Regions from separate parts of the Homo sapiens genome. Here region 1 is linked to region 2. The links come from fine-mapping of genetic effects on gene expression. Tissue or cell type: whole blood. Region 2 holds a variant in brackets; the other region holds the start of a gene. All regions are shown on one strand. Distances are between the middles of the regions. Region 1 holds the start of ATIC (5-aminoimidazole-4-carboxamide ribonucleotide formyltransferase/IMP cyclohydrolase). Region 2 holds the start of LINC02862 (long intergenic non-protein coding RNA 2862).

Region 1 (15,424 bases), 35 kb after region 2:
TTACAGGTGTGAGCCACCATGCCCAGCCCCCTCATTCTCTCTTGAACCTACTCCAGCCAGACCCTCATCTCTACCACTTCCCCAAATGTGTCCTTGTCAGGATAATCCAACATCTAATGGTTACTCTCAGTCCTCATCAGACTTAACCTGCTGGCAGTATTTGACACACAGTATCATAGGTATCCAGTGTCCTACACTTAACCCTGTTCTTCCCCCCAGGGCTACTACATTTGTATCCTTCCCAATTTCAGCTGATGTCAACTTTATTCTTCCAGCTGTACAAGCGATCATCAATGCTCCTTCTCTTCCTCTCAAACTTGGCATCCAATTTGTCAACAAATCTTATTGGCTCTTCCTTCAAAATATATCTGGGATTTAATTACCTCCTCCAATGTCCACTGCTGCCACTCTGGGCCGTGCCACCCTCATCTTTCACCTAGTGTCAAGGTCCTGGATCATTGTGAGAGCTTTCGTAGGGATTCCCCTGTTCCACCTTTGCTCTCATACAACCAGAGTGAGTGTGTGAAAGAGGTAAATTAGATGTCACTCCTTCCCAAAACTCTCCAAGGGCTTCCTTTCTCATTCAGAATAAAAGCCGAAGTCTTTACGATGTGCCCACACGGCCTTATCCAACCCGATTGCTGACATTGTGTCTTCCTTCTCCTAGTGAAGTTCCCTCTGTTGCTACCATACCACCCTTCCTGACATTCCTTAGACACTACAGCCACACTCCCTATGCACGGCCTTTGCACTTGTTCCCACTGCCTGGAACTTTCTCCTTCAAATACCCTGTGGCTTGTTATCCCCCACCCAGCCCTCCAGTCCTCACTCAAATGTACCTTGTCAGTAAGAAATTCTCTGCCAGGCCTTCCTAAAGGTGCAGCTACCTCTGCCCTGTCCCTCTTCTCTGCTTTATTTTATCCAAAAGGATAAAGTGTCTCTTCACCTGTGGTCCACAGTGGCTCATGCCTGTAATACCAGTACTTTTGGAGGCCGAGATGGGTAGATCGCTTGAGGTCAGGAATTCAAGACCAGCCTGGCCAACATGGTGAAACCCTGTCTCTACTAAAAATACAAAAATTAGCCGGGCGTGGTGGCATGCACCTGTAATCCCAGCTACTCGGCAGGAGAATTGCTTGAACCCAGGAGGCAGAGGTTGCAGTGAGCCCAGATCGCGTCACTGCACTCCAGCCTAGGTGACAGAGCAAGACTCAGTCTCAAAAAACCAAAAAACATTAAATGCCTTCCTGAATGAATTTTCTTTCTTTAGCTTTTTTTGTCGCTCGGGTTATCTACTAGACCTAATTAAGCAAGCTTATCTTCTTCCAGGCTTCAACTACTACTTGAATTTCATTAATTTTCCACGTTTATTTATCTTTAACCTCACTTTTATTCCTGAATTTCATTTGTATTTCCAACAATTTGCTGTATGATTTTAACTGTGTGCACCAATTACCTAGACTTTAAAATCAATATTTAGAAACTCAAACTTATTTACCCAACCACTCACACTGACCTTAAATTAAAATAAACACATGCCACAACTGTTCTTTCTCTTACATATATTTTTATATTTTGGGTGTTGCCTCACCAGCTACTCATATGACGAAGCTAGAAATGATGGAATCATCCCTAGTTTTTTGTGTCTAATATTTCCTATATGTCACTGATCCCTGCATGCTGCTAATTTTACCTATTTTGAATCGTCTCACATAGATAACCTCTTTTCCACCTTCTTATGTGTGAGTGGATGCAAAACCTTCCTAACCAGTTTCTCTACTTCCTACTATTCCAATTCATTCTTTGTATTATTGTCAGCTTTATATCTCCAAACATCTCCAGGACTTTCAAGAAAAATGTTTGAATTTCATACTAGGTCATAAATTAGCTTAATGTTCTGAACTACAGTAGAGAGGAATTTTATACCAAGCTCCTGGGAATCCCTTTATATGATAAACTACATCCACTTGAGTGGACAAACCCTTGGAGCAAGTCAGCCCAAGATGATGCAGCTTTATTAATCGTTAGAGTCCAATAGGAGATCCAAGACTTGGAAGGGAGATGGAGGTTTTTCAAAGAAAGTGATGAGCTTGGCCAGGCGCGGTGACTCACACCTGTAATCCCAGCACTTTGGGAGGCCGAAATGTGCGAATCACAAGGTCAGGAGATCAAGACCATCCTGGCTAACATGGTGAAACCCTGTCTCTACTAAAAATACAAAAAAAATTAGCCGGATGTGGTGGCGGGTGCCTGTAGTCCCAGCTACTTGGGAGGCTGAGGCAGGAGAATGGCGTGAACCCAGGAGGCGGAGCTTGCAGTGAGCCAAGATTGCTTCACTGCACTCCAGCCTGGGTGACAGAGTGAGAGCGAGACTCCGTCTCAAAAAAAAAAAAAAAAAAAGTGATGAATTTACACAAGAAACAAACAACATAGGGGCAAAATCAGATTATAACACCTTCAAAGAACTGAAACAATTCATGTACATTAAATATTTTAAGGTATATTACTATGATTTTAGGGTCTTCAAGCTTCTCTTTGGAGGTATGTGAAGTAAGAAGAAATGAAAATGTAATCATTATAGTGTATACACGCCCTTTCTGTCTTTCTGAAACAATAATCCTGCGATAAACCATTGGTAAAAGATGCATTCTCATCTTTATGAGAACATCTCCCTTTTCTAAGACACTAGCTTGCTGGTGACTAGATCTTTGAAGACATACCTTGGTGCCCAGAAAGATACCTGATTAGCCAGACCAAGGGAACCAAGAAGATTACACCTCTATTTTACTCTTCTTAGTCTCTTTGCAGTTTGTACTTTCAGTAGACTACCTGTACTTAATTCGCTTCTTAAAATATGATGAGGACTGCAGAAAAAATATTATGTCCATATTACAGGTAAAGCAACAAAGGTCCCCAAAAGATGGAGTGACTTGGCCAGGATCACAAAGCTAGTAAAAAATTCATTTACTCTTTTTGTCATTAACATATTAAGTCCTATCAAGTCGGGATGCTAAAACTATGGGAGAATTAATCAGAGTAAATATCTTTATTTTTATTTTTTGAGACAGAGTCTCGCTCTATAGTGCAGGCTTGAGTGCAGTGGCACTATCTTGGCTCACTGCAACCTCTACCTCCTGGTTCAAGCGATTCTCCCACCTCAGCCTTTCGAGTAGCTGGGATTACAGGCACCGCCACCATGCCTGGCTAATTTTTTGTATTTTTTTAGTAGAGACGGTGTTTCACTATGTTGTCTAGGCTGGTCTTGAACTCCTGAGCTCAGGCAATCCACCCGCCTTGACCTCCCAAAGTGTTAGGATTACAGACGTGAGCCACTGTACCCAACTTACTTTTTGTATTTTTAGTAGAGACGGGGTTTCACCTGTTGGCCAGGCTGGTCTCAAACTCCTAACCTCAAGTGATCCACCTGCTTCAGCTTGCCCAAGTGCTGGGATTACAGACGTGAGCCACCACTCCTAGCCTGTTATTTTTTTATTTTATTTTATTTAAGAGACAGGGTCTTGCTCTGTAGCCCAGGCCGAAATGCAGCCGTGCAACCTTAGCTCACTGTAACCTCGAACTCCCACCTCAGCCTCTCAAGTAGTTAGGACTGCAGGCATGCACTATGTTGCCCAGGTGGGTCTCAAACTCCTGGCCTCAAGTGATTCTCCTACCTCTGCCTCCCAAAGCACTGGGATTACAGGCATGAGACACTACACCAGGCCCCAGAGTAAACATCTGTAAATGGAAGAGTCTGTAATGAAAGAGGCTCTACAAAATCAGTTTAATGCCGTGTTTTCTCTATTATTATTATTTATTTATTTAATTTTTTCTTCTTTTTTTTTTTTTTTTGAGATGGAGTCTCGCTGTCGCCCAGACTGGAGTGCAGTGGCCCGATCTCGGCTTACTGCAGGCTCCGCCCCCCGGGGTTCATGCCATTCTCCTGCCTCAGCCTCCCAAATAGCTGGGACTACAGGCGCCCGCCACCTCACCTGGCTAATTTTTTGTATTTTTAGTAGAGATGGGGTTTCATTGTGTTAACCAGGATGGTCTCGATCTCTTGACCTCGTGATCTGCCCGCCTTGGCCTCCCAAAGTGCTGGGATTACAGGCGTGAGCCACCGCGCCCAGCCTATTTATTTAATTTTTTGAGACACAGAGTCTCGCTCTGTCGCCCAGGTTGGAGTGCAGTGGCGCAATCTCGGTCACCGCAAGCTCCGCCTCCCGGGTTCACACCATTCTCCTGCCTCAGCCTCCCGAGTAGCTGGGACCACAGGCGCCCACCACCACGCCCGGCTAATTTTTTGTATTTTTAGTACAGACAGGGTTTCACTGTGTTAGCCAGGATGGTCATGATCTCCTGACCTCGTGATCCGCCCGCCTCCACCTCCCAAAGTGCTGGGATTACAAGTGTGAGCCACCGCACCCGGCCTCTATTAATATTTTTTAGTTATACTTCATGTGTCTACATTTTCATTCCATCATGAGCTCCTTGAGGACAGTGCTTAGGTGATATTTATCTGTCTTCTGACACTGAGTTTCTGCCATCCAAGCAGAAAAGGCTCAATAAAAATGTATTGAATCGAATAAATATTTGTAATTCACATGACAGACAAATGCATAATGCCGAAGCAACTGTTTATTTCCCCTTATCAATAAATGTCAGCATTGTTTTCTCCTTTCCTTGCTTTCGATTTCCTGTAAAAACCTGATGGTGACTGGCCAAGGAAATATCCTTTTTAAATTCAAATTTGGCAAACACACTGAAGACATGCGATAATCTTAATATATTCCTCGTAGGAATGTGAGAAGTGTTCAGAGCAAAGGGCTAACATATTTAGAGGTCAAAAAATTGATTCCAGGCTGGACGCGGTGGCTCACGCCTGCAATCCCAGCCCTTTGGGAGGCCAAGGCAGGTGGATCACCTGAGGTCAGGAGTTCGAGACCAGCGTGGCCAACATGGCGAAACCCCATCTCTACTAAAAATACAAAAATTAGCCAGGCATGGTGGCACGCGCCTGTAGTGCCAGATACTCGGGAGGCTGAGGCAGGAGAATCGCTTGAACCTGGGAGGCAGAGGTTGCAGTGAGCCGAGATCGCGCTACTGCACTCCAGTGTGGGTGACAGAGCGAGAGTGTGGGTGACAGAGCGAGACTCTGTCTCAAAAAAAAAAAAAAAAATTGATTCTAGTCAATAGGTATTTATTTTGGGGAGTAAAGAGATGGGAAGAATTAGAGAAAGGAAGAGGAAAAACAAAAATAAATAGCATGCAGATAATGAGAAAATAGACTCATTTTTACAGCTGTGAGCTCAGACTAAAAGATAAACAATGCTATTACTTTGGAATATAATTCTAATAACACAAAAAAGACTCATAGACCACAATATGTATTTATTTTGTGGCAAAGGTGTCATTTTTAGAAAGAAACAAATGTGTTCAATTTTGCTTTCCCTGTTTTTAATGAATTAAGAAAGGTCTTCTCTTACCTTCTTTTGACTGTCATCATTCCTCTCATCCAGGAATATTTACAGGTTTGCAAGAAGACACCATCTTTAAGTAGTTTTTAGGCACTTTTACAATACTGACTAAATTGTATAAAATAGTATTATAAATTAATATTTAAATTATAATTTTATGACGTGAAAATCAACAACGAATGTCAATTTCACTTCGTTTTGACTGTCATCTGTGGCCTCTGGAGTCCCTCACTTAAATCATTGGTCCTTGGTTTTATTTTTTAAGCCTATTAAAAAGGAGGATGGGGCCGGGCACGGTGGCTCACACCTGTAATCCCAGCACTTTGGGAGGCTGAGGTGGACAGATCATTTGAGGTCAGGAGTTGAAGACCGGCCTGGCCAACACCGTGAAACCCCATCTCTACTAAATATACAAAAAAAAAAAAAAAAAAGTACAACAACAACAAAAAATTAGACGGGTGTGGAGGCAGAGGCAGGAGAATTTCTTGAACCTGGGAGGCAGAGGTTGCAGTGAGCTGAGATGGTGCCACTGCTCTCCAGTCTGGGAGACAGAGCGAGACCCTGTCTCAAAACAAACAAGCAAACAAGCAAGCAAGCAAACAAACAAAAAACAAGTTGGGCATGGTGGCTCACCCCTGTAATCCCAGCACTTTGGGAAGCCGAGGCAGGCGGATCACCTGAGGTCAGGAGTTTGAGACCAGCTTGGCCAACATGGCGAAACCCCATGTCTACTAAAAATACAAAAATTAGCCGGGCATCGTGGCGCCTGCCTATAATTCCAGCTACTCGGGAGGCTGAGGCAGGATAAACTCTTGAACCCGGGATGTGGAGGTTGCAGGTTGCACGTGACATAGCCGAGATCGCGCCATTGCACTCCAGCCTGGGCAACAAAAGCGAAACTCCATCTCAAAAAAAAAAAAAAAAAACAAAAAAAACAAAAAAACCCAGAAAAACAAAAAAACAACAAACAAAAAGGGAGGATGGTAGATAACTGTCCAGATACTTTCCAGCTTTGCCGCTATATGAACTATTCCTTTTGTTTAGTTTTCAGCATGGGAGCTTCTGGCACTTTTACGTACTTTCCAGCTTCTGGGGACCGGCTGCCTAGAATAACAGGCATTTGCCCCAGAGGCCGTGGAGTGGCCTCACTTTGGGGTCGTGGGCAGATCGCTGGCTCCCACGCCTGGACTTCGGGATCGCAGGCAGGATCCCTTCCAGCCCAAGCACTCCGCCCAGGCGCGCCAGGCAGAGCCCCACCCCATCCCGCCGTTCCCTTCAGCCCCGGGGCGCGGATCTTGCATCTGAAACTGAGCAGAGCAGGGCGCCGGGCAGGGCCGGCGGGCCACGTGATAAGCCCGGAAACAGCTCCGCCCCCTCGCTTCCTGAGCCGCCACATCCCGGCAGCCCTCCTACCTGCGCACGTGGTGCCGCCGCTGCTGCCTCCCGCTCGCCCTGAACCCAGTGCCTGCAGCCATGGCTCCCGGCCAGCTCGGTGAGGCCCTAGCGGAGCGGCGCGGTCTGCGTCCTCGCCTGCGGCCCCCCACGCTCCCGCCTTGGCGGCGGCCGGCGGGACCCGGCACTGCAGGGGCGGCGCTGCGGGATTGAAAGCCAGCGTCCCCGCTCCCCGGCCGGGCCGCAGCCTGCGTGGGGCCCGCCTTAGAGCAGCTCGCGGGTGTAAGACCTGGGGAGGCCCGGACCAGGCCTGCGAACGCAGGGTCCAGGTGCTGGCCTTGCGATTCGAGAATCTCCTCCCCCAGACCCTCCCAAGGCCTTGCAGAACACAGTGCAATGTGCTGCGAATCATGAGAAAAAATGTCTTCTCTTTCAGCCTTATTTAGTGTCTCTGACAAAACCGGCCTTGTGGAATTTGCAAGAAACCTGACCGCTCTTGGTTTGAATCTGGTCGCTTCCGGAGGGACTGCAAAAGCTCTCAGGGATGCTGGTCTGGCAGTCAGGTAAGGCATAGCTAGTTCCATCAGAAAGGAGTGTGATCACATTAACCAGGAAGTATTGTATTCCAGGCACCAGCAGCAAAACGCCTTATTTACTCCTCCCAGTAGCGCTGTGAGGTTGGTGTAATACTTCCCCACTTTATGGGGAAAAAAAGTGAGGCTCAGAGAGATTTAGCAACTTTTAAGACCCTGGACGGCTGGGCTAGGTGGCTCACGCATGTAATCCCAGCACTTTGGGAGGCCGAGGTGGGCTGATCACTTACGGTCAAGAGTTCGAGACCAGCCTGGCCAACATGGTGAAACCCGTCTCTACTAAAAATACAAAAATTAGCCGGTATGGTGGCACACGCCTGTAATCCCAGCTACTGGGAAGGCTGAGGCAGGAGAATCGCTTGAACCTAGGAGGCGGAGGTTGTGGTGAGCCGAGATGGCACTACTGCACTCCATCCTGGGTGACAGAGAAAGACCCTGGACAACACACTGGACAGATTTAGCATCTTCTGCACAAGTTTAAACAGTTGAGTAAGGGAAAAGTAGGATTGGAACCCGTGCTGTTCCTGATTTTAGGACACTAGTCTTAGCCCCTTCCTTAAACAGATTAACTTAGGTGGGCCACTTGTTATGCAAGGAAAACTTCAGTTACTTTGACTGGTGATTTAATAAAACTCGACATCATGAAGATTCCAATTTACCTGCCTTCCCTTAGAATCTCTGGTAACCATATGAAGGTGCAAATCATTCATTCCCACGTTCACAAGCCCTTCATTAGCTGACTAGGCCATGGAAAGAAGGGACTTAGAAATGATTAACCAGGATGCCATTGCTGATGTCAAGGAGTGGCATTCTGGGAGGAGAGGGAGGAAGTCTACTGAAAGGTAGAAAAATGAAAAAAACTATAGGATAGCTATTTAATAAACGGCAGTGAGAGTTGGGAGGAACGAGATGACCACCCCTGAAACATATTTTAGAATGAAAGAGATGAAGGATATCTGTCTGCTTTTTGTTGCCATGTGGAAAATTTGCTTCTTGGTTTCTAGATCCATGTAGAGGTAGGTTATTACCTTTTCTTTGTGCAGTTCCCAGCTATGTGAGCAGTACACAGCTTCCCTAAGTTTAACAAGTTCAGATGGTAAGAATGCCTTACTTTATTAACAAATACATAACTGTATATTTTCGGATGTCTTTTTGCGTCTTGTCTCTGTGGTTTTCATGGGAAACCTGTGAGAATCGTGGCAGGCAAGTTGGCTCTTTGCTCATCAGCAACCGAATGAGAATTCAAAGTCCAGACCTGCGTGCTTTCCATTGGGCCAAGTTGGGTCCTCCTATGGTAATGGAACCTTCGTAAAGCAAAATCCTCATCTGTAGTCTCTTTTTTTTCCCCACCAAACTTTGTATTATGGAAACATTTCAGACACAATCAAAAGTAGAAAAGTATAATGATCCCTTGGGTCCTATATCTGTCACCCACTTTAGGTACTTATCAACTGATTAGTCTTGTTTCTGTACCTATACCCACTCCTCACTTATCTTCATTATGGTCATATCTTCTTTAAAAACTGGAAATGTAAATGTGTTTCTCTTCTATGAAAGGATAAGAAGTTCACCATGAGTGATTTATTTAGACCCCAGCACAGTAAAGTTCACTGAATGAAATGTAAACAACTTGGAGCAATTGTTTTTTCTTCAACAAAGGCCACATTCAGTTGCAGTGGTATTTTATTCAGTTGCAGTGGTATTTTACATATATAAACTCTTATAGTCCTTATAACAACTTTTTAGTTTAGGTAGTGTTATCCTCATTTTATAGGTGAGGAAATTAAGCACAACGTAGTTAAGTAACTCGCTCGAGATTACACAGCTAGTTAAGAGGCCAAGATTTTTTTTTTTTTTCTCTGAGATAGAGTTTCACTCTTGTTGCTCAGGCTGGAGTGCAATGGCACTGTCTCAGCTCACTGCAACCTCTGCCTCCCAGGTTCAAACGATTCTCCTGCCTCAGCCTCCCAAGTAGCTAGGATTACAGGCGCCCGCCACCACGCCTGGCTAATTTTTTTGTATTTTTGGTAGAGACAGAGTTTCACCATGTTGGCCAGGCTGATCTCGAACTCCTGACCTCAAGTGATCGCCCGCCTTGGCCTGCTGGGATTACAGGTGTGAGCCACCGCACCCGAGGCCAAGATTTTGTAGGGGTGGAAAGGTGTGATCCTTTGCTCTCCATCGTAAACGTCACGGCCAATATTTTTATAAGAGAAGACAGGTTATAATAAGAGAAAAGCATAACAAATTTATTTAACAAAGTTTTACATGACATGAGAGCCTTCAGAATGAAGACCCAAAGACAGAGGAAAAACCATCCATTTTTATGTTTAGGTTCAACAAAGAATGGACAGAAAGGTGGAAGTATGATTGGACAGCAAGGATATGGTGTATGCTAGTAGACTGAGGTGGAGAAAGCCAGGAAAGCCTGTCTGTCCAGATTCTTCTTGGCTTCTCTAAAATTCTTTCTCCACCCCCTAAGGATCTCCTGACCTACTAATGGGCAAGGAGATGAGAGGATTTCTTTACGTCCAGCTCCTAGACAGAAAGCCAGTGGAAAGTTAGAATCATAAGTTTAAATCTTATGACTGGCTTTGGGGAAAAAGAGTTTTAGTTTCTGTAAACTGCCCTGGGGAAGAGAAATTCTCATTTCTGTGACTTCAGGGAAGAATGAAGGGTGAGAGGCAAGAGGGCAGGAGAAAGCTATATATATATATTTTTTTAGAGGGTTTTACTCTGTCACCCAGGCTGGAGTGCAGTGGCACAATCATGGCTAATTGCAGCCTCGATCTCCCAGGCTGAGGCAATCCTTCCACCTCAGCCTCCTGAGTATCTGGGACTACAGCTGCACACCAGCATGCCCAACTAATTTTTGTATTTTTCATAGAGATGGTTTCACCATGTTGTCTGTCTGGTCTTGAACTCTAGGGCTTAAGCAATTTTGCCTGCCTTGGCCTCCCAAAGTGCTGGGATTACAAGTGTGATCCACCATGCCTGGACAAGGTCTTGGTTCTGGCTGGGCGCAGTGGCTCACCCCTGTAATCCCAGCACTTTGGGAGGCTGAGGCTGCTGGATCATCTGAGGTCAGGAGTTTGAGCCCAGCCTGGCCAACATGGTGCAACTCCATCTCTGCTAAAAATACAAAAAAGAATCAGCCGGGTGTGGTGGCGTGCACCTGTAATCCCAGCTACTCAGGAGGCTGAGGCAGGAGAATTGCTTGAACCCAGGAGGTGGAGGTTGCAGTGAGCCGAGATTCCACCACTACACTCCAGCCTGGATGACAGAGAGAAACACTGTCTCAAAAAAAAAAAAAAAGATCTTGGTTCTGAGGCTGCTTCTGAGCATATTTTTGGGTGTTGTTATCTGCAATAATTTTATCCCAGGAAGTTAACCATTACCTTGTCATGAGGTAAACTGATGGATTTTAATTAGTGAGTATACAGCAGTGAGCATACATAGAATTATTTCCCGAGACTACAGCCATTATGTATAAATTCTTCAGTTCAAAGGAGTAGCAAGCTTTTTAATTACCCCAAATGTTTAATTCTAGAAATAAATCCGCCTTCTCTAAGTTTTAAGTGACTGTCTTCATTTGGAGGAAATGGATTTTATTTCCTGAACCCCAGGAAAAGAAATTTTGAATTTGAAAACACTTATGTCACCAGTTTGTGGATGTTGGAACTGTGTGTGTCATTGGTCAAACACCAGTCATTTGCAAATGGCTCCCCTTAACAGGAGAATCTACCCAGGAAATTCCGTATCTTACTGGCAGAACTTGCTGCTTTAAAGTGTTTATTATAGTCTCAGCTACTTGGAGGATTACTTAATAAGCCCAGGAGTTCTAGGCTGCCATGGACTGTAATCTTGCCTGTGAATAATCACTGTACTCCAGGCTGGGCAACATAGTGAGATCCCATCTCAAAAACTATATATGTTGATTGTAGAAAATTCGAAAATATGGACAACTATAAAGAAGGTAGTAAAAATGGATTGTAATTCTTAACATGCTAGTATATTTTTCTTCAAGCATTTTTATAAGCATGTACTTTATTTCATAGCTTACACAGAAGATAGATGCAGTTTTGCTTCCTGCTTTATTTATTTTTATGTATTTATTTATTTTTTGAGACGGAGTTTTGCTGTTGTTGCCCAGGTTGAAATGCAGTGGCACAATCTTGGCTCACTGCAACCTCCGCCTCCCGGGTTCAAGCGATTCTCCTGCCTCAGCCTCCCAAGTAGCTGGGATTATAGGCATGCCCCACCATGCCTGGCTAATTTTGTATTTTTAGTAGAGGCGGGGTTTCACCATGTTGGTCAGGCTGGTCTGGAACTCCCTTACCTCAGGTGATCCATTCGCCTTGGCCTCCCAAAGTGCTGGGATTACAGGTGTGAGCCACCCCACCTGGCCCCTGCTTTATTTTTTCTTATATATTGTGGGCATTTTTACACACCATTACAACTTATAAAGTCTGCCAGAGTGTTCGTGGTTACGACTTTCTAGGGGTCTGCTTTGTGATATGGATTAATATTTACTGTCCTTCACTTGACCCTTTGTCACATTGTGTGATTATTTTTTCTAGTTTACTTTTTTTTCCCATGTAAAACTTTTTATTTAACATTTCTGTAATCAGAACTCTCAATCTTTTGTTTAAAACTTGGAAAGCATTCCTCACATATTTAATTTTGCTACATGCATGATTTTTTAAATGCTAAACCTTTGATTCATAAGGAATATATTTTTGTTTGGGTTTAACCCGTTATTCCAATAGCAACACCACTTTATTAAACAGTCTTTTATGTCTTCACTCACTTGATATGCCATCTTCATGTGTTGTTGTTGTTGTTTTTTGAGATGGAGTCTTGCTCTGTCGCCCAGGCTGGAGTGCAGTGGCATGATCTCGGCTCACTGCGACCTCCAACTCTTGGGTTCAAGTGATTCTCCTGCCTCAGCCTCCCCAGTAGCTGGGATTACAGGTGCCCGCCATCACGCTCGGCTAATTTTTTGTATTTTTTTAGTAGAGCTGGGGTTTCATCATGTTGGCCAGGCTGGTCTCAAACTCCCCTCCTCAGGTGATCCACCTGCCTCAGCCTTCCAAAGTGCTGGGTTTACAGCCATGAGCCACCGTGCCCGGCCAAGGATATTTTTAATGCTTTTTGTTACATACTGCCAAATTCTCAGTTGTATGTCTTAGTAATATTTAATGAGTATGGCTTATGATTCAGTTTCTAAATGCTCTGAAAATTATAAAACCAGTGCTGTAGTAGTTACCAATTATCCCTGAACATACACAACAGTTAGGAAATAAATTAAATAAACTTTTTTTCGGAAGTAAATAGAATTTTACTTAAGAAATAAAATATAGTGAAATACTTTAAAAAATCAGAATTTTCACGTTGAATTCAGGCTCAAAATCTCTTGAAATGAAAACAGTAGATGCTTTGAATAGTGAAAATTACAATTCAGCCACACCAGTAGTACCATTCTGTTTATCTGTTTTTCAGAGATGTCTCTGAGTTGACGGGATTTCCTGAAATGTTGGGGGGACGTGTGAAAACTTTGCATCCTGCAGTCCATGCTGGTAAGTGGTTGGTATCTTTAATGTAAAAACAGTCAGTGGTTTCCAGGAATATTTTAGTTGATAGCGTCCTAAAATAAAGGAAGAAAAAGGCTCAAGAGAAATTTACATATAAAGTTAATGTTATGAAGTTGCTGCCAGATTTCATAATACGTTAGAACTGGTTTAAAATCCAGCTTGTCTTACTACTTGATGAATTCAGATTGTTTTCCTCTGCTTGCTATTAGTCCTGACCTGATACCTAATTTAGAGTCTGGTGTTTCCTGCTCAAGTTGCTGAAGATATTTAGATTTCATCGTATGAAAATACTTTTAAAATAGTTCAAACTTAGAAGAAAGCATCACAGCGTAACTGACTTGCAAAGGAATTTTTTTTTTCAAAGTGCTTTACATTTGTTCGTTCACCTAAGAATGAATTGTATATAAACCGAAACGGCAAGAAACTGGTATCCTCCTAGTTTGTCAGTTGTGGTACAATTTGGTGAATAAAGCTGAATGGCTACAGATCATCAGACAAGCCATTGACTTACAGAAACGCATAGACTGTTCTGGAACTAGCAACAGTTTTGTAAAATTCCTTTTACCTTTTTTACATTTTATTGCTCAAGAAACTGGGATCAAGAACTGAAGAAAAAGATTTTTAAATATATCTCTCTTTTTTTTTTTTGAGACAGGATTATACTCTTGCCCAGGCTGGAGTGCAGTGGTGCGATCATGGCTCGCTGCAGCCTCTGTCTGCTTCCCAGGCTCAAGCAGTTCTCCCACCTCAGCCTCCCAAGTAGCTGGGACTATAGGCATGTGCCACCACACCCAGCTAATTTTTGTATTTTTTATAGAGACGGGGTCTCACCTTGTTGCCCAGGCTGGTCTCGAACACCTGGGCTCAAGCGATCCCCCACCTTAGCCTCCCAAAGTGCTGGTATTACAGACATGAGCCACTGTGGCCAGCCAGATATATCTGTTAATCCTAATTTTTTTGTTTGATAACTCCCCAACTACATGTTTGATATTCTTTAATTAAGAATATTATGCTGGGCATGGTGGCTCTTGCCTGTAGTCCCAGCACTTGGAGAGCTGAGACAGGAGAACCGCTTGAGCCCAGGAGTTTAAGATCACCCTGGGCAAGATGGCAACACCCCCCTTCTCTTTAAAAAATTGAAAAGACCAGCTGGGTGTGGTGATGCATTCCTGTAGTCCCAGCTACTTGGGAGGCTGAGGTAGGAGGATCACTTGAGCCCTGGAGGTCAGGGCTATAGTGAGTTGTGATTACGCCACTACAATCCAGCCTGGGCGATAGAGTGAGACCATCTCAAAAAAATAAATTTTTTTTTTAATCAATGGGATTTAATTTGATTGAAGACACTATGTTGAAAGACATTCCTTAATCTGACTTGTTTTTTGAAGCTAATGACTTTGTTTAACTTTTTTAAATTAGGAATCCTAGCTCGTAATATTCCAGAAGATAATGCTGACATGGCCAGACTTGATTTCAATCTTATAAGGTAAAAACCTGAAATTAAACTTTTAACACATTACGAACCAACGACAAAGACTATGCCAAACCTGGTGTCCCTGTGTTTTCTTACTCACTATAAACCTTTACTGCGTACCTTCTGTGTGACTTTGTATGTGTGTAAGCATTTTGGTTTGGCCAGATTTATATACCAAAATACATACTGAAGTTTTTTAGGAAGTTACAATCTAAATCTTAGTATGTATAGGTTGAGTATCCCTTATCTGAAATGCTTGGGACCCAGAAGTGTCTTGGATTTCAGATTTCTTCAGATTTTGGAATATTTGCAGGTAACATGCCAGTTGAGCGTCCCTCAGAAATCCGAAATGCTTCAGTGAGCATTTCCTCCAAGTGTCATGTTGACGCTCAAAAAGTTTCAGATTTTGGAGCATTTCAGATTTCAGGTTTTCATATTAGGAATTATCAACTTGCACAACTAACTGAGTTATTTGCATAAAGATACTGGCTGTTTCTCTTAAATATACGTAACAGCTTTATTGAGATCTAATCCACATACCATACAACTCACCAATTTAAAATGTACAAATCAGTGGTTCACAGAAGTTGTGCAACCATTACTGTGTTAGTCTGTTCTGCATTGCTATAAAGGAATACTAGAAGCTGGGTAATTTATGAAAACAGGTTTATTTTGGCTCGTGATTCTATAGACAGTACAAGAAGTGTGGTGCCAGCATCAACTTCTGGTGAGGGCCTCAGGAAGTTTATAATCACAGTGGAAAGCAGAGGGGGAGCTGGCATATCCCATGAGAGAAGAAGCAAGAGAGAGGGAGAGGAGGAGTTGCCCAGCTCTTTTACTTTTTAACTTTTATTCTTAATTTAATTTAATTTTATTTTGAGACAGGGTCTCGCTCTGTTG
Region 2 (15,424 bases):
TTCTATAATGCTAGAGACTTAGAAAAAAACACGCAGAATAAAATAAAGAAAAATCATACATCATGGTTAGAAATACAGCTTTGTACATTAATGGAATCTCAACATTTTGAAGAAAGAAGATTCCATCTCGTGGTTCTTTTCTTTTATGGTCAAAGACGGACTTGAGAATTTTAGAAAAGCTGTGGACTTTCTTCTCAGAAAAAAAAAAAAATGTGCCACCTGTAATCTCAGCACTTTGGGAGGCTGAGGCACGAGGTGAGGAGTTTGAGACCAGCCTGACCAACATGGCGAAACCCCGTCTCTACTAAAAAATACAAAAATTAGCCGGGCATAGTGGTGCATGCCTGTAATCCCACCTACTCAGGAGGCTGAGGCAGGAGAATCGCTTGAACCCAGGAGGCAGAGGTTGCAGTGAGCTGAGATCGCACCACTGCACTCCAGCCTGGGCAACAAAGTGAGACTCCATCTCAAAAAAAAGTGCATGTACCTATAATTTCAGGGGTTCATGTAACACCTGAAGGCCTTGCATCCTAAATTAAAGGCTTGGGGTTTTATATACCTCTACACATCCCAGGTTCCATAGGTTAAAAATCCTGTCTGAAATGGTGAGTTTAAAAATCAATTTGGAGAAGGACATGTACAGAATGACTGTATGCAAAATAATACTGTATAGTTTCTATGTATATATAGTAAAAATATGCAAACTATGGAATAGTGAACATTGAATTCATGAGAGTTGTTACCCTTCAGAGCAAGAAAGGGTAATGAGATGGGGAAAAATGAAGGTGGCCTCAGTTATGCTTATACTGCATCATTTATTCAGAAACTATTGAAGCATATACGGCATATTATTTTAATAAAGCTTGGTGGCAGATGTATAATGAATTTTCATTATTTTATTTTCCATTCTTATCTATAAAGTTGGTATATACCCCAAAATTAAAAGGTTTCATTCAAAAACCTGAAATTATTATAAGATCTAATTCCATTGTCATGTAAAAAAGGTTATTTTTCCAAAACATCCAAATGTAAGTTCATGTTCTGAGAAACATATTTAATTCTCTCTTGTATAAAATCACCCAAGCTTATTTTCAAATACAAGCTAAAATGTTAATATTAAAAAGCAAACCATTGTTCTCTTCACAGAGTCCTCAAGTAGATAAGCCTTTATTTTTATGGCCATAATTTGATTTCTTGATAGGGAAAGAAGGAGAAAATTCTTCTGAAACTAATGTTATATTGGAACAAAATTTATTATCGATCCATATTCATTCTACTACCAGATATAATGAAAGTTTGGATAAGGTATTATTCTTTCTGGGGATTTTATGTATAGCAAAGTCAGTGTGAAGCCGACTATGTCATTGCTTGAGAGTCTGAACCTAATCGCCACTTAATTGATTCATGCTTGTAGCTGCACTGCTGCATAGCATCCCAGAGTGCTCAGATGCTACCTGTCAGGTGCATCCCATCACAATGCAAAGCAGCAGGTCTTGTGCCTGCCTTGATTTAAATGGAATGCTGGAGGAATGAAGCAGCCCAGGCAATCTGGAAGGCTGGTAGGGAAGAGGATCAGCTTCTGTTTCACCTCCCCATTGATAAAACTGACAGATCCCAGGCAGGCCTGAGGAGGTAAATTATGACCATAACATTAGCTAACTGTGGGGTAATATACACTGCTGGCCTATGGGGTCAGATCAAAGCTCCAGTCCTCCCTGTCCTTGACACCTAAGGAGAAGCAACATTAATTTCTGAGGATCTTTATTGGGCCACAGTGTTGAGGCAGAGCGTGGAACTTTTAATGTCATGGTAAGAAAAGGAGGCAGAAGCTTATTCTCTAACTATGCTCTCCAGTTGGATTAGGGATTTTAGAGACTCTGTCATTTTGGACTTGTCTTATTAAAATGATGTCTCCGCCAGCTGCCGCTCTAGCAATTAAGACAGGCCTGCTTTCCACCTAGTAATGAACTCCTCCAACGGCCTTTTCTCACCAACCACCCACACCCCACTTCCTATTGCCACAGGAAGGCCTGGCCTGGGGTAGAGTGTCTAGGTTTTGGGCGTAGGGAACCATCCCACCTATATTCTATTTTTCTTTGGATTTCTCTCTCTCTCTTTTTTTTTTTTTTTTTTTTTTGCCACTAGAGTGAGATCTGGAGGAACTTCATTTAGGCCTCTGACAAAAGACACATAGGAATGTTTTCAGCCCTATGTAGTCCAGCACAATTCGCCAGGTCTAGGAATTCCAAAAAGGATTTTGGCACCAAACCCAAACAGTAATAAACAGTGTGCACAGGCCAGGCCTCACCATCAAGGCATGGATTGTGTCTCTTATGGGGAATCTAGTAGACATGGTTGTGACTGTAAGTGGTTTTTTAGGGATTTGGTGATCTTGAGTCCCGGCCTAATATCAACTCAGAAATGACTGGCATATACCCTTGGAACAGTGTAGAACTGGGGGAAAGATAATAGGCAAAATGAAGATGGAGACATCTTGTATGAATCACCATCTCATGGCGTGGAACTATCAACTTGGCTTTTCCAAATACATGATGTTCCTGAAACCTCTGAATTACATCTCTGAATATTTGGATATTTAAGCTATTTTGATGCCTTGCTTACATTTAAGCTACCTTCCAAAGCAAATTCTATCCATCCTAATTGCTTTCAAACCAATCTTGCCTTAAAAATATTCCTACAAATCAACTGGTGTTGAATATTGATATAAGTAAATACTCTCCTTTAGACTAGAAAACCAGCATGTTTCATCACCAAATTTTTAAAAAGCAATTAATCTTCTCTTACCCATATTGAATAAGAATTCACTTTAGAATTTCCTTCTCATGAGGCAGAGCTTGACATTTAACAATTCTCATGTTTCATTTTCAGAAGTAAATGAGTATGCTGCAGTTAACCTGAGAGTTGATTCATAGTTAGGAATACAGGGAGTAACGTGGGGGAAATACCTCCTTTCTTTAGCTCAGGGGAACACACTGAGTGCCTGTAAAGTTACCCACAGTGCTATCCATATCGACTAGATTGTAGTCAAGTAAGGGCATACGATCAAGGTGCCATCAGGACCTAAGCAATATTCATGATCTCTGACAATATGGATCATGCACTGAAATTCTACAATTGTCCTTAGAGAAAATCAAAAGTTTATAGCACCACTTTTACCATAGAACATTTTTTCTTTTGGAATGGGGACAAAAAAAAAAAAGAAAAAAAAAGATTCATGGAAAGGATTTGGTCTCTGAATGCAGGTGAACCTGAATTTGAATCCTAGTGTTTGTAAGCCCTGACTATGTAATTTTGCTCATGGCCTGGTGCCTAGCAGGTGCTCAACAAGTCTTTGTTTTCTCTGAAACAGATCTGTATTTGTATCCTATTTTTTTTTTTTTTTTGAGGTGGAGTCTCACTCTGTTGCCCAGGCTGGAGTGCAATGGCATGGTCTTGGCTCATTGCAACCTCTGCCTGCCTGGTTCAAGGGATTCTCCTGCCTCAGCCCCCCAAGTAGCTGGGATTACAGGTGTCCGCCACCACTCCTGGCTTTTTTTTAATTTTATACTTAGTAGAAACAGGGTTTTACCATGTTGGCCGGGCTGGTCTCGAACTCGTGACCTCAGGTGATCTGCCTGCCTCGGTCTCCCAAAGTGCTGGGATTACAGGTGTGAGCCACCGCACCTGGCCTATATTCAGCTCCTATTGTGGCTGTAACAAATTACCAAAAGCTTCAAGGCTTAAAACAACACAGATTTATTACATTTCTGAAGGTCAGAAGTCCTTCAGCGTCTTGAGCAAGGCTGTGTTTCCTCTGGGCACTCCAGAGGAGAATGTTTCCTTGCCACGGCATGGCCCCACTACTATAGCATTTTGGACGCTATAAAAAGAAAAATCTCCTAGGCCAAATTGCCTCTACATTTCATTGTAGACACAATTAACTAAATTTATTCTTCTACAGCAGTGATTTTCAAACTTTTTGGTCTCGAAACCCCTTTATACTCTTAAAAAATATTACAGACTCCGAACGGCTGTAGTTTACGCAGGCTCTATCTGTCAATATTTATCATATTTGAAATTAAGATTGGTATTACAAGAATACACGAAGAGCACAGAAGCACACATTCCATTAAGCATCGGAACAATGATATCATTACACGTTATGGAGCCACTGTAAACCCCATTCATGAAAGAATGGGAGTGAAAAAAGCAAATAACATTAGTACTACTATGAAAAGATCTTTTACCTTGCAGACCTCCTGAAATGGTTGTAGGAGTCTCTGGGCCACATTTTAAGAACTGTTGTTCAGCTGGTGTGAAAGAAGGCGCAACAGCTAAAGAAATGCCAATTCTAAATCTCTCAAAGCAATCATCATGCTGACTATGCCCAGAACAGCACAGCAGCCAGTGTGGCCTTCTGCTGATAGGAAAGACCGAGCAGTCTGACTCTATCCTTTCCCTAAAGACTCTGGCTGTGGGCAGCCTCCATTCCCTGTGGTGTTGGAATCAACCAATGAGGAGGGGAGAAAACGCTTAGAAATAGTTTGAACAATAATAGAGTCAGCAGTTATAGTTGGTTCTAACATATTTTTAAAACTGCATTGTTATGATTCTGATGATCATACACAGTGCGGGAACTACTAGCTATTTCACCTATATATGAGTAAAACATTTGGGGAAATTTCCCTCTGGTTCAGCTGGTTATGCTGTTCACGGAGGTCCTTGACATTTGCCCAGCGGAGTCATCACCTGAAACCACGGGCAGCTGAACCCTGGGAACTTGCCTCGGTGTTTATAAATACCTCAGTTGCATCAGGACCCTACAGGTGAAAGATCTTGATACCACACAGGTATAATTACAATCTGCAAACCTACTCAAGGGGAGTTGCAGGTGAAGATAAGGAAGTCAGCCTCATTCCATTACCTAATCAGATTCTCAGCCAAAGACAAACAGCAACATATGGGACTTTAAGGTGAGCAGGGAGCCGACAGCAGCGCTACTCAAAATGTGGTCCGTGATCTGCATGGCTCTCAGAATTGTTTGTTATTGGTTCATGGCAAGTAAAGCACAGAAAATGAGAGTAAGGATTTAAAACATTTGGAAAAGTTTGACAATAGTTGTGTATCTGTTGAAACTAATCATTTATAAATGTGTTTCTATTTTGCATGACTTTTTCATTTTCCATTGTTTTGCTTCTTCAGTTTTATCAAAGTATTGGTCTGTAACAAATTGTGTGTGTTTTGTTGGGGACTGATCCATCAGTAATTTGTCAAGCACTGATCTAGAGGTTAAGGCCCTTTGGTCTGTTGGTTGAAATGTAATAACTAATTTTTTTAGACAAAAGAACTGATTTTACCTGGATATGATCTTTCTTAAAGTTTATTTCAAGTTTGATTAATCTCAATGAAACTCTGAAGTCTAAATTTAATGTCAAGATTTAGATTTGGGCCGGGAGTGGTGGCTCACGTCTGTAATCCCAGTACTTAGGGAGGCTGAGGCGGGTGGATCATTTGAGGTCAGGAGTTCGAGACCAGCCTGGCCAACATGGTGAAATCCCATCATCCATCAAAAATACAAAAAATTAACCGAGCATGGTGACACACACCTGTAATCCCAGCTACTCAGGAGGCTGAGGCGGGAGAATTGCTCCAACCCAGGAGATGGCAGTTCCAGTGAGCCAAGATCGCACCAATGCATTCCAGCTTGGGAGACAGAGACTCTGTCCCCTGTCAAAATATGTATACACACACACACACACACACACACACACACGCACACACATATACATATATATACATATTTAACTGGGCATGGTGGTATACACTCGTAGTCCCAGCTACTCAGAAGGTTGAAGTGGGAGGATTGCTTAATACTGGAAGTTTGAAGCCGCAGTAAGCTATGATTGAGCTACTGCACTCCAGCATGGGTGACAGAGCAAGACCCTGTCTCAAAAAAAAAAAAAAAGCACATTTAGGTTTGACAATTTCAGGGCTAAATAACAAATTAATTAGCAGTTATTATGTTCATCAGACATAAGGCTATTTAATATCATTTCTTTTGCCTGATTGAAGGTTTCCAGGCTTTCAGGAAGCAGTACTATTTAATCAAATACCAATGGCATACTTGTGTCATGCAATGTTACGTTCCATAGGCAATAATAAAAATGCTATCAAGGAAAAAGTCAAGAGAAGTGGCTGTGGTCTAGATAAATGAAATACAATGTAATTAAGAATATGGATCAGAAAACTTAATTTTAAAAAAGCAATTTTCTTCTTTAGGTTTGTCCTATCTTTACAGTTGTATGTAAATTTTTAACATCCAGTACAGATCTCATAGTGTTATTATCGAAGCTCACAGTTGAAAGTGCTTGTTTACAAGTGTTTATCTTGCCAAACAGATAAACATTAAGGTGCCCTGTAATGGGTTTTTGTTTTGAGTTCATCCACTGATTTGTAAAATTCTGAGTGAGTAGATCCCCTGTGTAAAAGGCTTTTAAATTTGCAAGCACAGGAGTTCAATCAATTCCAATTGTTGGAGTGGGACCAACATCCTTAGGTGAAAGAAAACATTACTTGATAACTCCTTTTATCTTTTTTAAGCTGAGAAAAGCGGCAGTCTCATTCAAGTGCCAACTTCCCAATGAGAAACACACACTTTCTACTTTATCTCCAACATAAGGCAGAAAGAATAAGAGAATTCAGCAAGCAAGAGAATATTACTTTGTATGTATCTGAGTATCTGATAGCCATCATGTCAGAAACAGATCGCATATTGAAGGTTTTGCACTTCATGGATACAGCAGTTATTAAATGGACTTATTTCTCTAATCATAAAAACCAAGTCTTTATATTTCCTCCCTCATATTATAAGTATTAAAAATTTCTGTTATCTTTTCCCTGATTATAAAAGTAATACATGTTCATTACAGAAATATGTAATAAGAAAGCAAAATCATTCATAATCATACCACATTTAAATAAAGCAATCCTAATATTTGTATATACTATTTCCCATTTTTTCTATGGGTATTCATATATGGTTATATTTCTTTTCTTTTTTTATTTTTTTTTGAGACGGAGTCTCACTGTGTTGCCCAGGCTGGAGTGCAGTGGTGCAATCTCAGCTCACTGCAAGCTCCGCCTCCTGGGTTCACACCATTCTCCTGCCTCAGCCTCCCGAGTAGCTGGGACTACAGGTGCCTGCCACCACGCCTGGCTAATTTTTTGTATTTTTAGTAGAGATGGGTTTTCACCATGTTAGCCAGGATGGTCTCGATCTCCTGACCTCGTGATCCACCTGCCTTGGCCTCCCAAAGTGCTGGGATTACAGGCATAAGCCACCGCACCCAGCTCATAAATGTTTATATTTCTACATAGCTGAGATAATAATGTATGCATTAGTGTGAATCTTATTTTTTTGTTTGTTTGCTTTTGAGACAGGGTCTTGCTCTGTCACCCAGGCTGGAGTTCACTGGCATGATCATGGCTCACTGCAGCCTCCATCTCCTGGACTCAGGTGATCCTCCCACCTCACCCTCTGGAATAGCTGGGACTTCAGGCATGTACCACTA[C/T]GCCCAGCTAATTTTTTTTATTTTTTGTAGAGACGGAGCTTCACCATGTTGCCCAGGCTGGTCTTGAACATCTGGACTCAAGTTATCTGTCACCTTGGCCTCCCAAAGTGCTGGGATTACAGGCATGAGCCACAGCACCTTGCTTATTCTTTTGTTTGCTATTAAAATATAAGCATTTTCTAGTCAATAAAAATTAACCAAGAACATAATTTGCAATGGCTGCATAATATTCTGTTATATTGAAGTTATAATAGATGTGAGGAGTTTCCTATTGCTGAATATTTACTTTTTCTAGAGGTTAAGAAGAGCTTTTAGAGTCAGAAAGACTTGACTTGTTGACTCTAAAGTCCTGGCTGGTGGTGGGTGCAGTGACTCACGCCCATAATCTCAACACTTTGGGAGGCCGAGGTGGGTGGATCACTTGAGGTCAGGAGTTTCCGACAAGCCTGGTCAACAGGGTGAAACCCTGTCTCTGCTAAAAATATAAAAATTCTGGGTGTGGTAGTGCATGCCTGTAGTCCTAGCTACTTGGGAGGCTGAGGTATGATAATTGCTTGAACCCAGGAGGTGGAGGTTGCAGTGAGGCAAGATTGCACCACTGCACTCCAGCCTGGGAGACAGAACGAGTCTTTGCCTTAAAAAAAAAAAAAAAAAAAAAAAATATATATATATATATATATATATACACACACACATACATAAAGTCCTGGGCCAGGCGCGGTGGTGGCTCATGCCTGTAATCCCAGTACTTTGGGAGGCCGAGGCAGGTGGGTCACTTGAGGTCGGGGTTTGAAACCAGCCTGACCAACATGGTGAAATCCTGTCTCTACTAAAAAAAAAAAAAAAAAAAAAAAAATTAGCTGGGCATGGTGGCATGTGTCTGTAATCCCAGTTACTCTGGAGGCTGAGGCAGGAGAATCGCTTGAACCTAGGAGGCAGAGGTTGCAGTGAGCAGAGATTGTGCCACTGCACTCCAGTCTGGGCCACAGAGCAAGACCCTGTCTCAAACAAACAAACAAAAGAAAAAAAGTCCTGGCTGGCTCTGCCACTTATTAGCTATGTGACTTTAGTCAAGTTACGTACTCTCTCTAAAGTGCAATTTTCTCATCTGTAAAAATTGGGATTATTATACAAGCTACTTCATAGGGTGGTTGTGATAGTAAATAAAGATTATGCATATAAAACAGTGCATCACAGTGTCTGACTTTTCTCAGTAAATGTTAATTATTTTGATACTGTGATAAATATCTTAGCTCATACAGCTTTGGTCTAGTTTTATGAAATTATTTAATTTAGAAAATGCCAAGAAGACTTGAAATAAACATAGAGATCTATATTTTAAAGATTATTTTTCAGCTTTCAATTTGACCAAGAGAATAACGACTGTTAGATTCCTGTAAGCAAACTATTAGGTTGCTGCAAAAGTAATTGCGGTTTTTGACCTTGAAAGTTATGGCACAAACCGCAATTACTTTTGCACCAACATAATAAGACAGCATGGAAAAGTTTGGATTTAAATGATGGAAGAACAAAAGCATTTTATGAATGTCTACTTCACTTGGAATTATTCATATTCCTCAGATGTGTTAAAAATTGAAAGATGAGGCCAGCGTGGGAGGCTAACGCCTGTAATCCCAGCACTTTGGGAGGCCGAAATGTGCGAATCACGAGGTCAGGAGATCGAGACCATCCTGGCTAACCCGGTGAAACGCCGTCTCTACTAAAAATACAAAAAAATTAGCCAGGCGTGTTGGCGGGCGCCTGTAGTCCCAGCTACTTGGGAGGCTGAAGCAGGAGAATGGCGTGAACCCAGGAGGCGGAGCTTGCAGTGAGCCGAGATCCCGCCACGGCACTCCAGCCTGGGCGACAGAGCGAGACTCTGTCTCAAGAAAAAAAAAAAAAATTGAAAGATGACTGGTTCACTTAGTGAAAGATAGAAAAAAGGAAGGAGGGGAAGGAGGGAAGGAAAACGGGAGGAAGGGAGGGAAGGAAGGAAGGAGGGAAGAAGGGAGGGAGGGAAGGAAGGAAGGAGGGAAGGAGGGACGGAGGGAAGGAGGGAGGGAGGGGAGGGGAAGGGAAGGGAGGTGGAAAGGGAAGGGGAGGGAAGGAAGGAAAGGGAAGGGAGGGAGGGAGGAAGGAGGGAGGGAGGGAAGGAAAGAAGGAAGGAAGGGAAGGAAGGAGGGAAGGAAGGAGGGAAGGAAGGAAAAAAGAAAGGAAAGGAAAAGGAAGGAAGGAAGAAAGGGAAGGAAAGAAGGAAACACTTTGCACAAGTCTTCCAAGAAATTAAACCTTTAGTATGCATTGCTCTGACCTGCCCAGGTTCACCATCCATTTTCACCTTTTCCCCTTTGTTCATCTGTTACTCCACAACTAACCTAGAAAAGTAGCTGCTGATGGCCAGTCTTCTGTAGAGGTGATGACTGTACTGAAAAATACTTTCATATTCACAAATCTGTTTGTTCCTTATATCACCAAAGATGAGAGAGAGGAAAAGAGAGGAGAGGAGAACCTGAGACATGCTTATGCGTGCTATGGACTGAATCATGTCCCCTCAAAATCTCTATGTCAAAGCCCTAACCCCCAACATGACTATATTTAGAGACAGGGTTTTTAGAAGGTAATTAAGGCTAAAGGAGGTCATATAGGCTCCTAATCCCATAGAACTTAAAGCTTTATGAGAAGAGAAAGACAGAGGAAAGAGTTCTTATTTTCTCTCTTCATATATGTGCACCAAGGAAAGGCCAGTGTGGGGCACAGTGAGAAGCTGGCTGGCTGCAAGCCAGGAAGAGAGTCCTCACCAAAACTCAGTCATGCTGGCATCCTGTTCTCAGACTTCCAGCTTTCAGAACTGTGAGAAAATAAATTTATGTTGTTTTAGGAACCTAGTCTGTGGTATTTTGTTATGGCAGCCCAAGCAGACTAAAACAACATATGCAACCAATTTTACAATCTTAAATACATGACTTCTGAAGTTCTAATCAATATTCTTATAAGTATATTTAAGAAGGCACTCCTTATATAGAGACAGGGGTAAAACAAACTATGATAATTATCCAAATCCATTTACTTTCAAAAACATCTGAAACACTGGTAAGCAATACAAGTTGCTGATCCTAAAATCAATTAATTACATTTTCCATTATTCCTAGTAATAAACTACTAAGAATTTATATGAATAAACTAGGAATAAACTAATAAATATTCCTAGGAGTAAACTAGGAAATTATTATTCCTAGTAATAAACCTAACACAAATGTATACATATGTGCACCCAAAAAAATGCACAAAAATATTGATAACCAAAAACAGAGAATGTATTCCATTAGAATACACATGTATTAAATGAATAATCTTTCTTCAAGTTCATTCTTGATGGTAAAGAATTTTCAGGCTTGGTGCAGTGGCTCACACCTATATTCTCAGCATTTTGGAAGGCTGAGGCGGGCAGATCACTTGAGGTTAGGAGTTTGAGACCAGCCTGGCCAACATGGTGAAACCTCGTCTCTACTAAAAATACAAAAATTAGCCAGGTGTGGTGGTATGCGCCTATAATCCCAGCTACTTGGGAGGCTGAGGCAGGTGAATCGCTTGAACCCAGGAGGTAGAGGTTTCAGTGAGCCAGGATCGTGCCACTGCACTCTAGCCTGGCCAACAGACTGATTGAGACTGTCTCAAAAAACATAATTTTTAAAAAGTGTAATTTTCCTTCTATTTACATTTTTAAAAGAGCTTGGGCAATGAAGTTTATAATGACAAGTGTAGCAGCTAATCCCCAAGATGGCCCTTGTGTAGTTTCCTTCCCATATTCAGTAAGGCTAACCTGTGTAGCCAATGGGATACTGGGAAAATGATGTAGTATGGCCTCTAAGGCTAGGTCATAAAATGCATTGCAGCTGCTACCTTGCTTTCTCTTGGGTCACTCACTCTAGTGGATGCCAACCACCGTGTTGTGAGGACACTCAAGCAGCTCTGTGGAGAGGGCCATGTGGTAAGGACCAGAGGCCTCCTGCCAACAGCCAGCATCAACTTACCAGCCATGTGAGTCGGCCATCTTGAAGCAAGTCCTCCAGCCCCTCTCAAATGCCCCAGCTGGCATCTTGACTGTTAACCTCATGAGAGATCCTGAGCCAGAATGACCTAATGTGCCCCCGGATTCTTCACCTTCAGGAAATTTATGCTATCATAAATGTTTATTATTGTTTGAAGCCAGTAAGTTTTGGAGTAATTTGCTCTGTGTGCAGTGATAAATAGATAACTAAAACAACTGATGCTGGTACAGTTACAGCATAGTTCATCTCTCCCAAGTAAAACTTTACTTATTTCATGACGTATATGAAGAATTTAGAAAAATAAATTTAAAAAATCAACTTTGGGGTCAGGTAAGGATATTTAAAATCTAGCACTTCACAAGCACATCCCAAAAGAGTATATTCAAGTAGTATGTAAGTATATAAAAGGATACTTAACCTCATTAGCCATAGGGTATTCAAATTAAAACAACAATGAGACTGGGCATGGTGGCTCACGCCTGTAATCCCAGCACTTTGGGAGGCCGAGGCAGGTGGATCACCTGAGGTCAGGAGTTCAAGACCAGCCAATGTGGTGAAACCCTGTCTCTACTAAAATACAAAAATTAGCTGGGCATGATGGTTGGTGCCTATAACCCCAGCTACTCGGGAGGCTGAGATGGGGGAATCACTTGAACCCCGGAGATGGTGGTTGCAGTGAGCCAAGATTGTGCCACTGCACTCCAGCCTGGGCAGCTGAGCGAGACTCTTGTCTCAAAAAAAAAAAAAGAAAAGAAAAAAAAAAGAAAACAACAACGAGAAAAACTGTTCACCCACCAGAGGGCTAGAATAAAAAATAATGATAACATTTAGTGCTGGTAAGGATATGAGGCAAATGAAACTCTCATATACTGCTGAAGATTGTGTACAATCACTCTGGGGAATTATTTGGCAGTACAGGAGGTACTAAAGCTAAACTGCATACACCTTGTCACATAACCATTCCACTTCTAGTAGTAAACCCAACAGAAATGTATACACATGTGCACCAAAAAAGTACAAAAATATTGATAGCCAAAAACAGAGAATGATCTGTATGTCCAATAGCAGTAGAAAGGATAAATTGGGATGTGTTCACACAAGAAATACTGTATAGCAATGAGAAATAAACAAATTACAGATATTTCCAGCAATAATAATAGATTTCACATATGTAATATTGAGTGGAAAAAAGCTGTTTTTTAAAACAAAAAGTGGGGGCCGGGTGCGGTGGCTCATGCCTGTAATCCCAGCACTTTGGGAGGCTGAGGCGGGCAGATCACCTGAGGTTGGAAGTTCGAGACCAGCCTGACCAACATGGAGAAACCCCATCTCTACTAAAAATACAAAATTAGCCGGGTGTGGTGGCGCATGCTTGTAATCCCAGCTACTCAGGAGGCTGAGGCAGGAGAATGGCTTGAACCCAGGAGACAAGCTGAGATGGTGTCATTGCACTGCAGCCTGGACAACAAGAGTGAAACGCCATCTAAAAAAAAAGGAGGGGGGGTACATAGTATGTAATTCCATTCATATAAAGTTCAAAAGCAGGCAACACTAATTTATGGTGATGGAAATCAGGATAATGGTCACCTTTGAAGAGGAGGAGGAAGCAACTAAGATATGACATAGGGTGGGGAGCTTTTGGATGTTGATAATAATCTATTTCCTCATTTGTCTGCTGGTTATGCAAGTGTGTTCACTTGCTGGATATTCCTTCAGATGTATACTTATGATTTGTGCCCTTGTCTGTATGTATGTTATTCTCAGACAAAAAGTTTACCAAAAAAAAAAAAAAAAAAACACTCAACATGGTAAGGAATAAACCCCAATTTTCTCATTTTCATGGTTGAACTCTCATTAGGTGGGAGAGTGCTCTTGTTGTTAGAAGCTACATACTGAATTGTCAAAAGGTAATAGGGCACGTTTGTAATTCTCAAATGGCTTAGGGGTAAAAATATAAAATATGTGTTATATATGAATATATAATATACATGATACATCTGTGGAATGAATATATATGTGTGTGTGTGTGTGTGTGTGTGTGTGTGTGTATAGAGAGAGAGAGAGAGAGTGCCAATGATGAAGCAAATATGTTTTTTTTTCTTTTAAATTGCCAGGTGCGGTGGCATGCACCTGTAATCTCAGCTACTTGGGAGGCTAAGGCAGGAGGATCACTTGAGTCCAGGAGTTTGAGACCAGCCTAGGCAACACAGTGAGATGCTGTCACACACACACAAAAAAAACCCAAACAGGTCAGGTGCAGTGGCTCACACCTGTAATGCCTGTAATCCCAGCAATTTGGGAAGCCGAGGTAGGTGGATCACCTGAGGTCAGGAGTTCGAGACCAGCCTGGCCAATGTAAGGAAATGCTGTCTCTACTAAAAATACAAAAATTAGTCAGGTGTGGTGGTGCGTGCCTGTAGTCCAGGTAACTGGGAGGCTGAGGAACGAGAATCGCTTGAATCCAGGAGGCAGAGGTTGCAGTGAGCCAAGATCATGCCAATTTGATCGTTCCAAAACAATTGAGGAGTTTGAGTGAAGGGTATGTGAGAGTTTATTGTGTTTTTCTTGTATTTTTTCTGAAACTTTGAAACTCTTTCAAAATAATTAAAACGTATTTTAAAAACACCTGTTAGCTGGGTGTGGTGGCACACAACTGTAGTCTTAGCTACTCAGGAGGCTGAGGCAGGAGGATTTCTTGAGTCCAGAAGTTGGAGGGTTTAAAAAAAAAATCCAACTGTTCCACTTACTAACTGTATTTCCATGGGCAAATGGTGAACTTCTCTATGTCTCAGAAGACTCTTCTCTTAAGTGGGGATATTAGATCAGGAATGCTGGCTCACACCTATAATCCGAGCACTTTGGGAGGCCAAGGTGGGACGATCACTTGAGCCCAGGAGTTTGAGGTTACAATGAGCTATGGTTGCACCACTGCACTCCAACCTCAGTGACAGAGCAAGACCTCGTCTCCAAAAAAAAAAAAAAAAAAAAAAGAGTGGGGATATTAATATCTACCTTTCAGGACTATTCTAATGATTTGACAAAATAATAGAAATAATAGGTAACAGTTATATAACTTGCCCTAGGTCACACACCTAGTTTTTTGTTGTTGTTGTTAGTTAGTTAGATTTTGTTTTTGTTTTTGTTTTGAGACAGAGTCTTGCTGTGTTACCCAGGCTAGAGTGCAGTAGTGCGATCTCGACTCACTGCAACCTCCCCCTTACCAGTCAAGTGACTCTCCTGCCTCACCCTGTTAAGTTGCTGGGACTACAGGCGTACACCACCACGCCCAGCTAATTTTTGTATTTTTAGTAGAGATGGGGTTTCGCCATGTTGGCCAGGCTGGTCTCGAACTCCTGACCTCAGGTGATTCACCCGCCTTGGCCTCCTAACGTGCTGAGATTACAGTCGTGAGTCACCACGCCCAGCCCACAGACCTAGCTTTTATGAGCCAGGATTTAACCCAGGAATTCTGACTCCAAAACCTACACTCTCATCTAATGCACAAATCAATCAAGTGAATGTCACGTAGCAGGCCATTAGTGGTACCTAGAATGATGACAATGCTTGTATTAGTTTCCCAGGGTTGCTGTGACAAAATATCACAAACTGGCTGGCTTAAAACAATACTTCTGCAGGGCAGAAGTACAAAATCAAGGTGCTGCCCGTGGTATCCAGCCTTTGATGCTTCTTGGGAAGGATCTTTCCTTGCCTCCTACACTTATTGTAGTCTCAGGTTTGCCTTGGCTTGATGGCAACATAATTCCATTCTGTGCCTCTGCCTTAATGTGGCTTTCTTGTGTGTGT

Evidence for each region. PIP is the estimated chance that this variant, and not a neighbour inherited with it, causes the effect.
Region 1: ATIC starts here. The variant in region 2 is fine-mapped to the expression of ATIC in whole blood (TOPMed, PIP above 0.99).

What each region holds. Positions count from the first base shown.
Region 1 is chr2:215,305,196-215,320,619 of GRCh38, forward strand. It overlaps ATIC (5-aminoimidazole-4-carboxamide ribonucleotide formyltransferase/IMP cyclohydrolase), which reads left to right and starts at 6,864. Exons shown (of 16, transcript NM_004044.7): 1 at 6,864-6,966; 2 at 7,303-7,429; 3 at 12,962-13,038; 4 at 14,470-14,536. The coding sequence starts at 6,948. LOC124907975 (a long non-coding RNA gene) reads right to left here and starts at 6,777. Exons shown (of 2, transcript XR_007088075.1): 1 at 5,484-6,777. RefSeq lists an enhancer at 6,568-7,218 and silencers at 6,749-6,828, 6,839-7,208.
Region 2 is chr2:215,270,168-215,285,591 of GRCh38, forward strand. It overlaps LINC02862 (long intergenic non-protein coding RNA 2862), which reads left to right and starts at 4,823. Exons shown (of 3, transcript NR_174956.1): 1 at 4,823-4,973; 2 at 7,441-7,516; 3 at 7,602-7,780. RefSeq lists an enhancer at 1,198-1,746. The variant C/T (reference allele first, on the strand shown) is at 7,572.